Homo sapiens: one gene and its partners. The protein of the gene in region 3 purifies or fractionates together with the protein of the main gene of each other region. This does not show direct contact. Each region holds a gene or a part of one and is shown on either strand. Other genes may lie near its edges. The genes, in order: TMEM165, DHX8 and GPATCH8.

Region 1 (3,513 bases), on a different chromosome or scaffold from region 3:
GATAGATGGGAAAGGCTATTTTGTCAGGGAAGCCTCAAAAATGCTGTATTTTGGGGAAAAAAAATGGAACTCTGATTTTCATTTGATTCTCATAAAACAAACTTTCTTTAAAAATATCACTTTAATTAGCTGGGCGTGGTAGCGGGTGCCTGTAATCCTAGCTGCTAGAGAGGCTGAGGCAGGAGAATCACTTGAAACCGGGAGGCAGAGGTTGCAGTGAGCCGAGATGGTGCCACTGCTCTCCAGCCTAGGTGACAGAGTGAGACACTATCTTAAGAAAAAAAAATATATATATATATACATATATATTTATTTATTTATTTATTTTATTTATTTATTTAATGGCTGTACCCTATATTCTTCTTGATTTCTAGCCTTTTATTGGCTCTCAGATTGCCAGAGTTGGGACTCAATAGTAAGTAACCATTTTGTTGAGGTGGTAGTGATTCTACCAGGGTGAGTTATCATGACAGCAGAATCACTGCGTTTTTCTCTCTACTCTGTGGCATAGACTCTATGCCATAGAGTGACGTGTGAAAGGCTTGAGGCTCCCTACCTACGAGACACCCTGGTCCATTCTAGCAGTATGGCACGTGCTGACTGGGTTTTGAGTCTCTTGCTGTAAAATCACATTACTGCACTTCCCTGCATTTTCTCATCCAAAAATGGGGATTACCTGCTTTGTGGATCGGTTTGCAGATGAAATAACACACGCAGGGTATCTAGCATGGTCCCCCACATGGCACATTCAGTGTTAGCCACACTTCCATACTAACTGCCCTGCGGGGATATTTAATGAGCTCTTAAATGGCAGAAATGTTGTGTCTTTTCCTGTTCCCTTAGTATTCCTATTTTTGTTGGTAATTTTTCTTATGAACCATGCAGTTGTCTAGTTCAGGCCATTTTAGTATGCAGTTTTATCTTTGCTTCCAACATGATTTAATGTTCCCAAATTGGATTTCACATAATCCTAGTGTCCTTTGAGACTTGAATTGGTTCTAGGCCAAAAAAGGGTGAGGGGGAAGGAAGAAATTCAGAGTCAAATTTGGCAAATAATATATCCCTGTCGTTTTGTTTTTTCTTTTTAAGACTTGGGCCAGGTGTGGTGGCTCACGCGTTTAATCCCAGCACTTTGGGAGGCTGAGGCAGGCAAATCACCTGAGGTCAGGAGCTCGAGACCAGCCTGGCCAACATGGTGAAAAATACAAAAATTATCCAGGCATGGTGGCCCACGCCTGTAGTCCCAGCTACTCGGGAGGCTGAGACAGGAGAATCTCTTGAACCCGGGTGAGCCGAGATCGCGCCACTGCACTCCACTCTGGTCGACAGAGCTAGATTCCATCTCAAAAAAAAAAAAAAAAAAAAAAGACGACTCAGTATACAAATAAAGACTGGAAAGTCCTATATTAAAGGAACTAGTTAAATACTAGTTTATTTTACTTAATCTAGTGAATTTTTAAATATTTTCTTTCTTTCTTTTTTTTTTTTTTTTTTTTTGAGACAGGGTCTGGCTCTGTCAACCAGGCTGGAGTGCAGTGGCACAATCTCAGCTCACCTCAACCTCCACCTCCTGGGCTCAAGCCATCCTCCCACCTCAGCCTTCTGAGTCTGGGACTACAGGTTCCCACCACCATGCCTGGCTAATTTTGTATTTTTTGTAGAGACAGGGTTTTGCCATGTTGCAGAGGCTGGTCTCGAACTCCTGAGTTCATGCAATCTGACCACCTTGGCCTCCCAAAGTGCTGAGATTACGCCCGGCCTAAATATTACTTTCAAATAGAACCATCTTCATGGGTAGCAGTTTATAATACACAAGTAGAATTTGGGAAATGTAGTCCCAGTCTTCCATTCTTCACAGTGGATGCTTCAGCCAGTTTCCTGTCTCTGCACACACACTGCCCGACAGCGGGCTTTCCCTTCTCCTTCAGAGCAGTAGCAGTTCCCTTTCTTCATTCCCACCCATCACAGTGGCAGCCCCCTCTGCCCTCCTGTATTCTGAATCCCACCCTTATAATATGCTTAGATTTTGCCTTTCTCCCAGCCGTTTTGTGAGCATTGTTCGTGTGTACCAATTTTTTCTCATCCTTTAAAAAGAAAAAAAAAAAGCCCCTTTTCTCAATTGTACATCGCAAATCCAACTCTTGCCCTCCTGCAGTGTCAGAGGACTTGGCTGTGATGGGAATAAGCCTTGGCTCTGTTCTCCTTGCATACTTAGCCCATGGGAACCCAGTTTCTGGCCTCACCAGGAATGTTGTTGTGCTTTGAGCTCCCTGTGGCCTTGCATGATGCCTCCGTTGGTCCTTACAGGAGGTGATTGGCTGGCCACCTCACTTGCTTTCTCCTGTGGACCCTTCTTTCTCTGTCCTTCCTTGAATGCTGCCTTTGTCCCTCATGATTATGCTATCAACATTCTTCTCTTTCTGCTTTCTCTGTAACAGGTTTATTGACTCTTTTTTTTGAGAGTCTTGCTCTGTCACCCAGGCTGGAGTACAGTGGCACAATCTTGGCTTGCTGCAACCTCTGCTTCCTGGGTCCAAGCGATTCTTCTGCCTCAGCCTCCCGAGTAGCTAGGATTAGAGACATGTGCCACCAAGTCTGGCTAGTTTTTGTATTTTTAGTAAAGATGGGGTTTCACCATGTTGTCCAGGTTGGTCTCAAACTCCCAACCTCAGGTGATCTGCCTGCCTCGGCCTCCCAAAGTGGTGAGATTACATGTGTGAACCATCCACCCACCCTGATTCAACTGACTCTTAACTTTAAAAATCACATTGGTCTTACCATACATAGTTCATCAATTGTGGGAGAGAAACTTGGGTGTCATGCTTTATTTATTTATTTTTTTTTTGAGATGGAGTCTCACTCTGTCACCCAGGGTGGAGTGCAGTGGCACGATCTCAGCTCACTGCAACCTCAGCCTCCTGGATTCAAGCCAATTCTCCTGCCTCAGCCTGCCCAGTAGTTGGGACTACAGGTGCCTGCCACCACACCCGGCTAATTTTTTGTATTTTTAGTAGAGACAGCATTTCACCATGTTTCAGTCTCCTGACCTCGTGATCCACCCTCCTCGGCCTCCCAAAGTGCTGGCATTACAGGCGTGAGCCACTGCACCCAGCCTATTTTTCTTTTTTTAATAAGAGATGGAGTCTTGCTTTGTCACCCAGGATGGAATTTGTAGCATAGTAGTGTGATCATAACTCACTGTAGCTTCAAACTCAGGCTCAAGTGATCCTCTCACCTCAGCCTCCTGAATAGCTGGAACTACATGCATGAACCACTGCACCATTATTTTATTTTTAAGAGACGGGATCTCGCTGTACTGCTCAGGCTAGCCTTGAACTCCTGGCCTCAAGTGATCCTTCTGCCTTAGCCTCCTGAGTGGCTGGCTCCACTCTGCTTGGCTCTGATATTTTTCCATAAAGCCTATCATTCATTTATCATGGAGGTATGTTAATTTTGCCTTCTTAATTTCTCTCAAATTCACCTGCTCTTTGCCTACAGTCATCTGCCCCGATC
Region 2 (3,654 bases), 920 kb from region 3:
AAGATATGAGCCCACTCAGCTTTCACAGGTCTATTTTCACAATGACAGTGCCCAACACATCCATCTTGGGGTGCCCAGAGTAGTCACCAGGACCTTCCTTCCAGCCCTAAGTGTACTACAGAGGCAGCTCTACACAGTGGGCAGACGGAGGCACTCAGAGACAGACACTTTGTTTAGACAGGTATTCAATTCCACAGTAATAATGTTCCAGAGGGTTGCAAACAAAGAGCATTTTTTTCAACAACTAACAGATAATCTTCCTCTTAGGTATCTGAGGTAATTCTCAGGCATACCCTTACTTGGGGAGAAGGAATATAACAAAGATGGAAAAGCTGGAGGAAAAGGGTTATGTGAGGAGCAAGAGAAAAGGTGCCTATAGCTTTATAGGTACACACAGAGATGAAAAGACATGATACTCAAGGTGGTTCAACTCAAACATGCAGAGTCATCAGATTCCAGCTTACCTGTCCATTATGCCTAACATCTGCTTGCGAATGTCCTGGGCCCGGCGCAGGGAACGAGCCTGGATAAAGTTCTCATAGCACCATGGGTTGGAGAACTTGTTGTTCTTCCAGGAGTTGTACACAGCTAGCAGGGTGAGGTGGTCCCCTTCAGTCTGGTGGAATTTGGCCTTCTTCTGATCTGCAAGGGCTTGTTTATCCTGCCAAGCAGTGGGACAGAGGAACATTTCCGACTCAACAGCTACTAACTGAACATGGAGCAATTCTAGGGAGCCCTACAAGACCCTATCAAAAGTGTCCACATCAGGCTAGGCATGATGGCTCAGGCCTGTAATCCCAGCATTTTGGGAAACTGAGGCAAGAGGATCACTTGAGGCCAGGAGTTTGAGACCAGCCTGGCCAACATGGTGCAACCCTGTCTCTACTAAAAATACAAAAATTAGCAGCACACGGTGGCGCACGCCTGTAATCCCAGCTGCTCTGGAGGCTGAGGCAGGAGAACTGCTTGAACCCGGGAGGTAGAGATTGCAAGATCATTCCACTGCACTCCAGCCTGGGCAACAGAGTGAGACTCCATCTCAAAAAAAAAAAAAAAAAAAAAAAAGTCCACATCAAGCATTGGAATGGCAACAGGCCAACTACCCCAACTTCATGGCACCCCCATCTAAACTTGGATCTGAACTTCCTACCTTGGGCCTATAGAAGACGTTCTGCACAGACAGCATGGATACAATGGTCAGCATTTCCTCACTGCAGCCCAGATGCACAGACATGATGAGCATTTTGCATAGCATTGGCTCCAGAGGGAACTCTGCCATCTAGAGGGACAAAAAAAGACTACAACTGCTTCCCTGTGGAAGACACATTTGGATTCACCAGAGCAAGACCTTGGTCAGAGTGGGTAACAACACAGATTTTCCCAAAGCATAATGATGCCTTGGGATGCCTTTCTCTATCAGAAGAATGCTGTTGTTTATTCTTTTCCCAAATAAACTCCAACGGGATGTATGTGACCAAGCATATAACTACTGTTGGGGTAGATGAGAATTTTGCAGATGCCGTTTCTAATTAAGGCTACATTCAGTAATACATCCTCAGGCAAAATTATGAACAGAACACCTTTTTGTATAAAGAAGAAACAGTTTAAAGTGACAGTGGAGAAATTCAGGTTAAAAACAAACATTTAGAATTTTACTCAAAGCTTATCCACGGCCTCAGCCTGATTTTGTACAGACCGAAGGATGTGAAAGGCTGACCAGGGAATCTTCCCAAAAGCACAGGAAGTTGAGTCTGTCCCTTACCCGGCGGCCCAAGCGAGTGAGCAGGCCCTCGTCATCCAGGGCCCCCAGTGTGTACAGCTGCTCCATGGCTGTGATCAAAGTTTCCATAGGTGGGGCATCCATGAAATCAAAGGACAGCAGATCATTGATACCCATGGCCTAGAACAGAAAGGAAGAAGGCATGTGATAAGAGGGTCAGTCTAGCCAGTGTCAGCATGTGGGGAAGCTACTTGTTACTTTATTTCCCATTTCTTCAATTGCAATTAGGAAGCCACCGGTGAGACTGGCGGTAACTTCCAGGGCTGGGCCACATAAAACTCAGACTATTATAATAGAAAGCACATACTTGAGACAGAGTCTCACTCTGTCACCCAGGCTGGAGTGCAGTGGCCCAATCTCAGCTCACTGCAACCTCCACCTCCTACGTTCAAGCGATTCTTCTGCCTCAGCATCCCAAGTAGCTGGGATTATAGGCACCCGCCATCATGCCCAGCTAATTTTTGTATTTTCAGTAGAGATGGCGTTTTACCATGTTGGCTGGGCTGGTCTTGAACTCCTGACCTCAAGTGATCCGCCTGCCTCGGCCTCCCAAAGGAAAGCACATAATTTCTCAGGAAACTTTTTGAAAATATTCTCTCAGTTGGGCATGGTGGCTCACACCTGTAATCTCAGCAGTTTGGGAGGCCAAGGAGGGAGAATCGCTTGAGTCCGGGAGTTGAGACCAGCCTAGGCAACATGATAAAACGTCTTCCAAGAAAAAAAAAAACAAAAAACCCTAACACTCTCTCAAAATGACAATATGTACAACTCAACAGCAAAAGGACAAACAACTCAATTTAAAAAATAGGCACAGAGCTTGAATAGACATTTCTTCAAAGAAGATATACAAATGGCCAACAAGCACATAAAAAGATGCACAGATGCACAACATCAGTAGTAATTAGGGAAATGCAAATCAAAACTACAATGAAATATCACTTCATACCCACTAGGATGGCTATAATTTTTTTAAAAAACAGAAACTAACAAATGTCAGTGAGGACGGGAGGTATCAGAAACCTCATGCATTGCTGGTGGGAATGTAAGATGTTGCAGCCACTGTAGAAAAGTTTGGTGGTTCCTTAATAGGCTAAATACAGAATTAGCACATGACCCAGCAATTACACTTCTAGGTATATATCCAAAAGAACTGAAAGCAGACTCAAACAGATACCTGCACACTAATGTTCACAGCAGCATTATTGATAATAGCCAAAAGGTAGAAACAATCCAAATGTCCATCTGCTGATGAATGGATAAACAAAATGTGGTATATACATACAACAGAATACTATTCACCCTTAGAAAGGAATGAAATAAATGGATAAACCTTGAAAATAACATGAATAAATCTTGAAAACATTATTCTAAGAGAAACAGGTCAGATACAAAAGAATATTGTATGATTCCACTTAAATGAGGCTATCTAGAATAGACAAATTCAGAGAGGTAAAAAGTAGAAGAGTAGTTACCAAGGGATAGAGGAAGGGGGAAAGGGGAGTTACTGTTTAATGGGTACAGAGTTTCTGTTTGGGACAATGAAAAAGTTCTGGAAATGGATGTTGGTGATGGTTGTACAACATCTTGAATGTATTTAATGCCACTGAATTGTATACTTTAAAAAGCTTACAATAGTAAATGTTGTTATGTATTTTACAATAATAATAATAATAATATAGTCTACCAACTTGTCCTGTCTCTTGCATACATCATTTCTACTATATATCTATGAGGGATCTCATACCATGTTAGGTGGGAGGGATATAAAGATGGCCAGGATATGGCCCCTGCTTTCAGAGAGTTCACACTGGGTAAAAACTATGTTCACAAAACCACCACAGTGCAATCTACATGCCTGGCATGTAGCATGTGTT
Region 3 (3,654 bases):
GGTAAGTCCTCTTTTCAGTGGGCTTACATCACAATAAAAAGCGCAGGTTGTGATGTAAAACAGCTGTGGTAGTAAAGTGCTTGTCTGCCCCATTTTGCTTTGTTTGGCTGGTTATGAGTGGATTAAATATATATTTATTAAAAAAATTATCCAGCATAGATCAATTAGTTTAAAGTCAATTTTCTTCGCAACTAGTCCTTTTCACAGCTTACCAGTTACCCTCGCAGCCAGTGTTAAATCCACTCTAGGAAATGGGACTTTAGAGCACCAGATTAAAAGGAAAACTATTCTTTTCTCTAAGGGCAACTAATTGTTTCTTTTTATTTAAACTTTTCACAGCCCCATTAAATTGTAAAGCATCTCCTAGTCTATGAGGAACATCAAAAAAAATTGTAAAGCATCTTTTGAAAACAAATTCAACATACTGAGTTGTAATTATAAAGTTTTACTGCATCATGTTTAAAAATGTACTTTTTCTATTTAACCATGCCAGTTGAGATTTTTTTTTTTAAACTAGGTTAAAAAGTTGTGTAGGAGGATATCAGTGGGCAGAGTAAAGTGATACTTGATGGGAAGTTATTTGGGGATCTTAAAAGGAATTTTTAAAGTTTTACAATTTAAACCTCCTGATGCCATTGCTTAAAAGTGCTTTGCATTACTTATTAATGTAATTTTGCCATAGTAATTTGAAATTAATCCCAACTGGACGTCAGCCAAGGTGGTTAATTGGGTTTAAACTAGGAAAGGAAGGTCTTGAGTGTAAGCTGTGAGAATGGCTTGTGTTTGGTTCACTGTAGCTTTCTGGTCTCTGCACTCCAAGGCAAGATCTCTAACCACCCAAAACCCAATGTGTAAAATGAGCTGTTGGTTTGGCTTTGCACCTTACCTTGATTATGTGTTCCTGTTACAGGGAGAACAGATCCCATTCCAATCGTTGTCAAGTATGATGTCATGGGCATGGGTCGCATGGAAATGGAGGTAAATTGATCTCATTAACTCATAAGTTTTGTGAGATATTTTGAAATAATACTAATTCCAAATTCAGATGTCTGTGCAAGAATACATTTATCAGATGAAATGTAGTTTTAATATTTTTCTTTGGATGACTAAAAAATATATTTTACATTTTCATTTAGTGCTACTTTTGAGACAAATAGAATATAAACAGAGCTGCTGTTTTAACTGGCACATAAAGAAGTTAAGTGATTTGCCGAGGGTTATACAGCAAGGCAATATCAGACTTAGATCCAGACCTTGGTACTTGCTTCAGTAGGCAGTGTTGCTCAGCTCTTAAAATGTTGCTGTGATAAAAGCTTTGCCTTTGTAGAATTGGGTACGGCTGTCACCTGTAATACCTGCTTTTCATTGCCTAAAATATTTTCTTCATTGACTCCTAATTCCTTTTTTTTTTTTTTTTTTTTTTTTTGAGATGGAGTTTCGCTCTTGTTGCCCAGGCTAGAGTGCAATGGCGCAGTCTCGGCTCACTGCAACCTCCGTCTCCCGGGTTCAAGGGATTCTCCTGTCTCCTGTCTCAGCCTTCTAAGTAGCTGGGATTACAGGCGCATGACACCATGCCCGGGTAATTTTTGTGTTTTTAGTAGAAACAGGGTTTCATCATATTGGTCAGGCTGGTCTTGAACTCTTGACCTCAGGTGACCCGCCCGCCTCGGCCTCCCACAGTGCTGGGATTACAGGTGTGAGCCACTGTGCCCAGCCTCAATTTTCAAAGAATTAGGAGTCGCTGGGCGCAGTGGCTCACGCCTGTAATCCCAGCACTGTGGGAGGCCGAGACAAGCAGATCACCTGAGGTGAGGAGTTCAAGATCAGCCTGGCCAACATGATGAAACTCCATCTCTACTGAAAATACAAAAAAAATTAGCAGGGCATTGTGGCGGGCACCTGTAATCCCAGCTACTCAGGAGGCTGAGGCAGGAGAATCACTTGAACTCGGGAGGCAGAGGTTGCAGTGAGCGGAGATCATGCCATTAAACCCCAGCCTGAGCAACAAGAGTGAAACTCCATCTCAAAAAAAAAAAAAAAAAAAGGAAAGAAAGAAAAGAAAATTAACATTGAAGTGAAGTCTACTTTCAACAAATGTGCCTTTTGGAAACTACCAGCCTGAAAGTAACAAACTATTTTGCATGTGATTTTCTCTGTGAGGTGACAATAAAGCAAGCAGTAGCTAAGCAAAATTACAATTTTTTTTTGTTTTCAGATAATACTGTAGTTGTGCAAATAACTTTTTCATAGCTAATCTTGGGGGTACTTTAGGAATTAAATCTAATCATATCTATTTTTGTCAAGCTTGATTATGCTGAAGATGCTACCGAACGGCGCCGTGTCCTAGAAGTAGAAAAAGAAGACACAGAAGAGCTGAGACAAAAGTACAAGGTATTTAAACAAAGCTATTCATTGGGAGATGGGGAGGTGCTCACTGAATAAGAAAGAACTCAAATTTTGTTGAAAATCATCACTGTTGCTAACAGCATTTGTTTGACATTTGGTGGTAATTAGTAGTAGATCTCAGATTTCTATTACATTCCTATTTATTGGCTCTGTATAAACTATAGAGATAATAATACCTACTTCTAAAGTGTGTTAGAAAGATTACATGAATTAGTGTTTGAAAACACAATGCCTGTTACATAGTAGGTATTCAAGTAGTGGTAGCAGTAAAAATTGTTAAAAGTCCTTTGAGGCCAGACACAATGGCTCACACTTGTAACCCCAACACTTGCAGAGGCCAGACACAGTGGCTCACACTTGTAACCCCAACACTCAGTAGAGACGGGGTTTCACCATGTTGGTCAGGCTGGTCTCGAACTCCTGACCTTGTGATCCACCCGCCTCGGCCTCCCAAAGTGCTGGGATTACAGGCGTGAGCCACCACGCCAAGCCTAATTTTTGTGTTTTTAGTAGAGATGGGGTTTCACCATGTTGGCCAGGCTGGTCTTGAACTCCTTGCCTCAGGTGATCTGCCTGCCACGGCTTCCCAGTTTGCTGGGATTTCAGGCGTAAGTCACCGCGCTTGACCCCCTTTCTTGTTTTTGAACTTAGCTTAGCTATATATTAAATTTTTGTGTGTTTTATTTTATCCAGAACTATAATATAACCAACTCATCTTCTTTTCCTGCCCCTTTTTCTTTCCCCTTTTTCTTCTCCTTTCCTCTCTCTTTATTCACTCTTCAGCCTATTTATACTGACTTTAGCAGTTTTCACCAAACCACTTTATTCAAGGCCACCAAACACTTCTATTTGCTAAATCCAATAAATCATTTATTTATTTATTTATTTTATTATTATTATTAATATTATTATTTTTTTTAAAGACTGAGTCTCACTCTGTTGCCCAGGCTGGAGTACAGTGGTGTGATCTAAGCTCACTGCTCCCGGGTTCAAGTGATTCTCGTGCCTTAGCCTCCGAGTAGCTGGGACTACAGGTATGAGCCACCACGGCCAGCTAATTTTTTTGAATTTTTGGTAGAGATGGGGTTTCACCATGTTGGCCAGGCTGGTCTCGAACTCCTTACCTCACGTGATCTGCCCACCTCGGCCTCCCAAAGTGTGGGGATTACAGGCGTGAGCCACTGCGCCTGGCATACTCTTTCTTCTTTAAAACATTTTCATTACTCTTGGTTTTGAAGAATTTATACT

Evidence for each region.
Region 1: the proteins of GPATCH8 (region 3) and TMEM165 purify together in Homo sapiens (affinity purification with mass spectrometry; one large-scale study listed by BioGRID and IntAct). This does not show direct contact.
Region 2: the proteins of GPATCH8 (region 3) and DHX8 purify together in Homo sapiens (co-immunoprecipitation; one large-scale study listed by IntAct). This does not show direct contact.

The regions. Positions count from the first base shown.
Region 1 is NC_000004.12:55,419,822-55,423,334, forward strand, and holds part of TMEM165 (putative divalent cation/proton antiporter TMEM165 precursor), read left to right. Parts: intron 1-3,513. UniProt on the Homo sapiens protein: Putative divalent cation:proton antiporter that exchanges calcium or manganese ions for protons across the Golgi membrane.
Region 2 is NC_000017.11:43,518,376-43,522,029, reverse strand, and holds part of DHX8 (ATP-dependent RNA helicase DHX8), read right to left. Parts: intron 1,901-3,654; coding exon 1,763-1,900; intron 1,280-1,762; coding exon 1,151-1,279; intron 662-1,150; coding exon 465-661; intron 1-464.
Region 3 is NC_000017.11:44,433,802-44,437,455, reverse strand, and holds part of GPATCH8 (G patch domain-containing protein 8), read left to right. Parts: exon of another isoform or gene 1-910; coding exon 911-978; intron 979-2,304; coding exon 2,305-2,391; intron 2,392-3,654.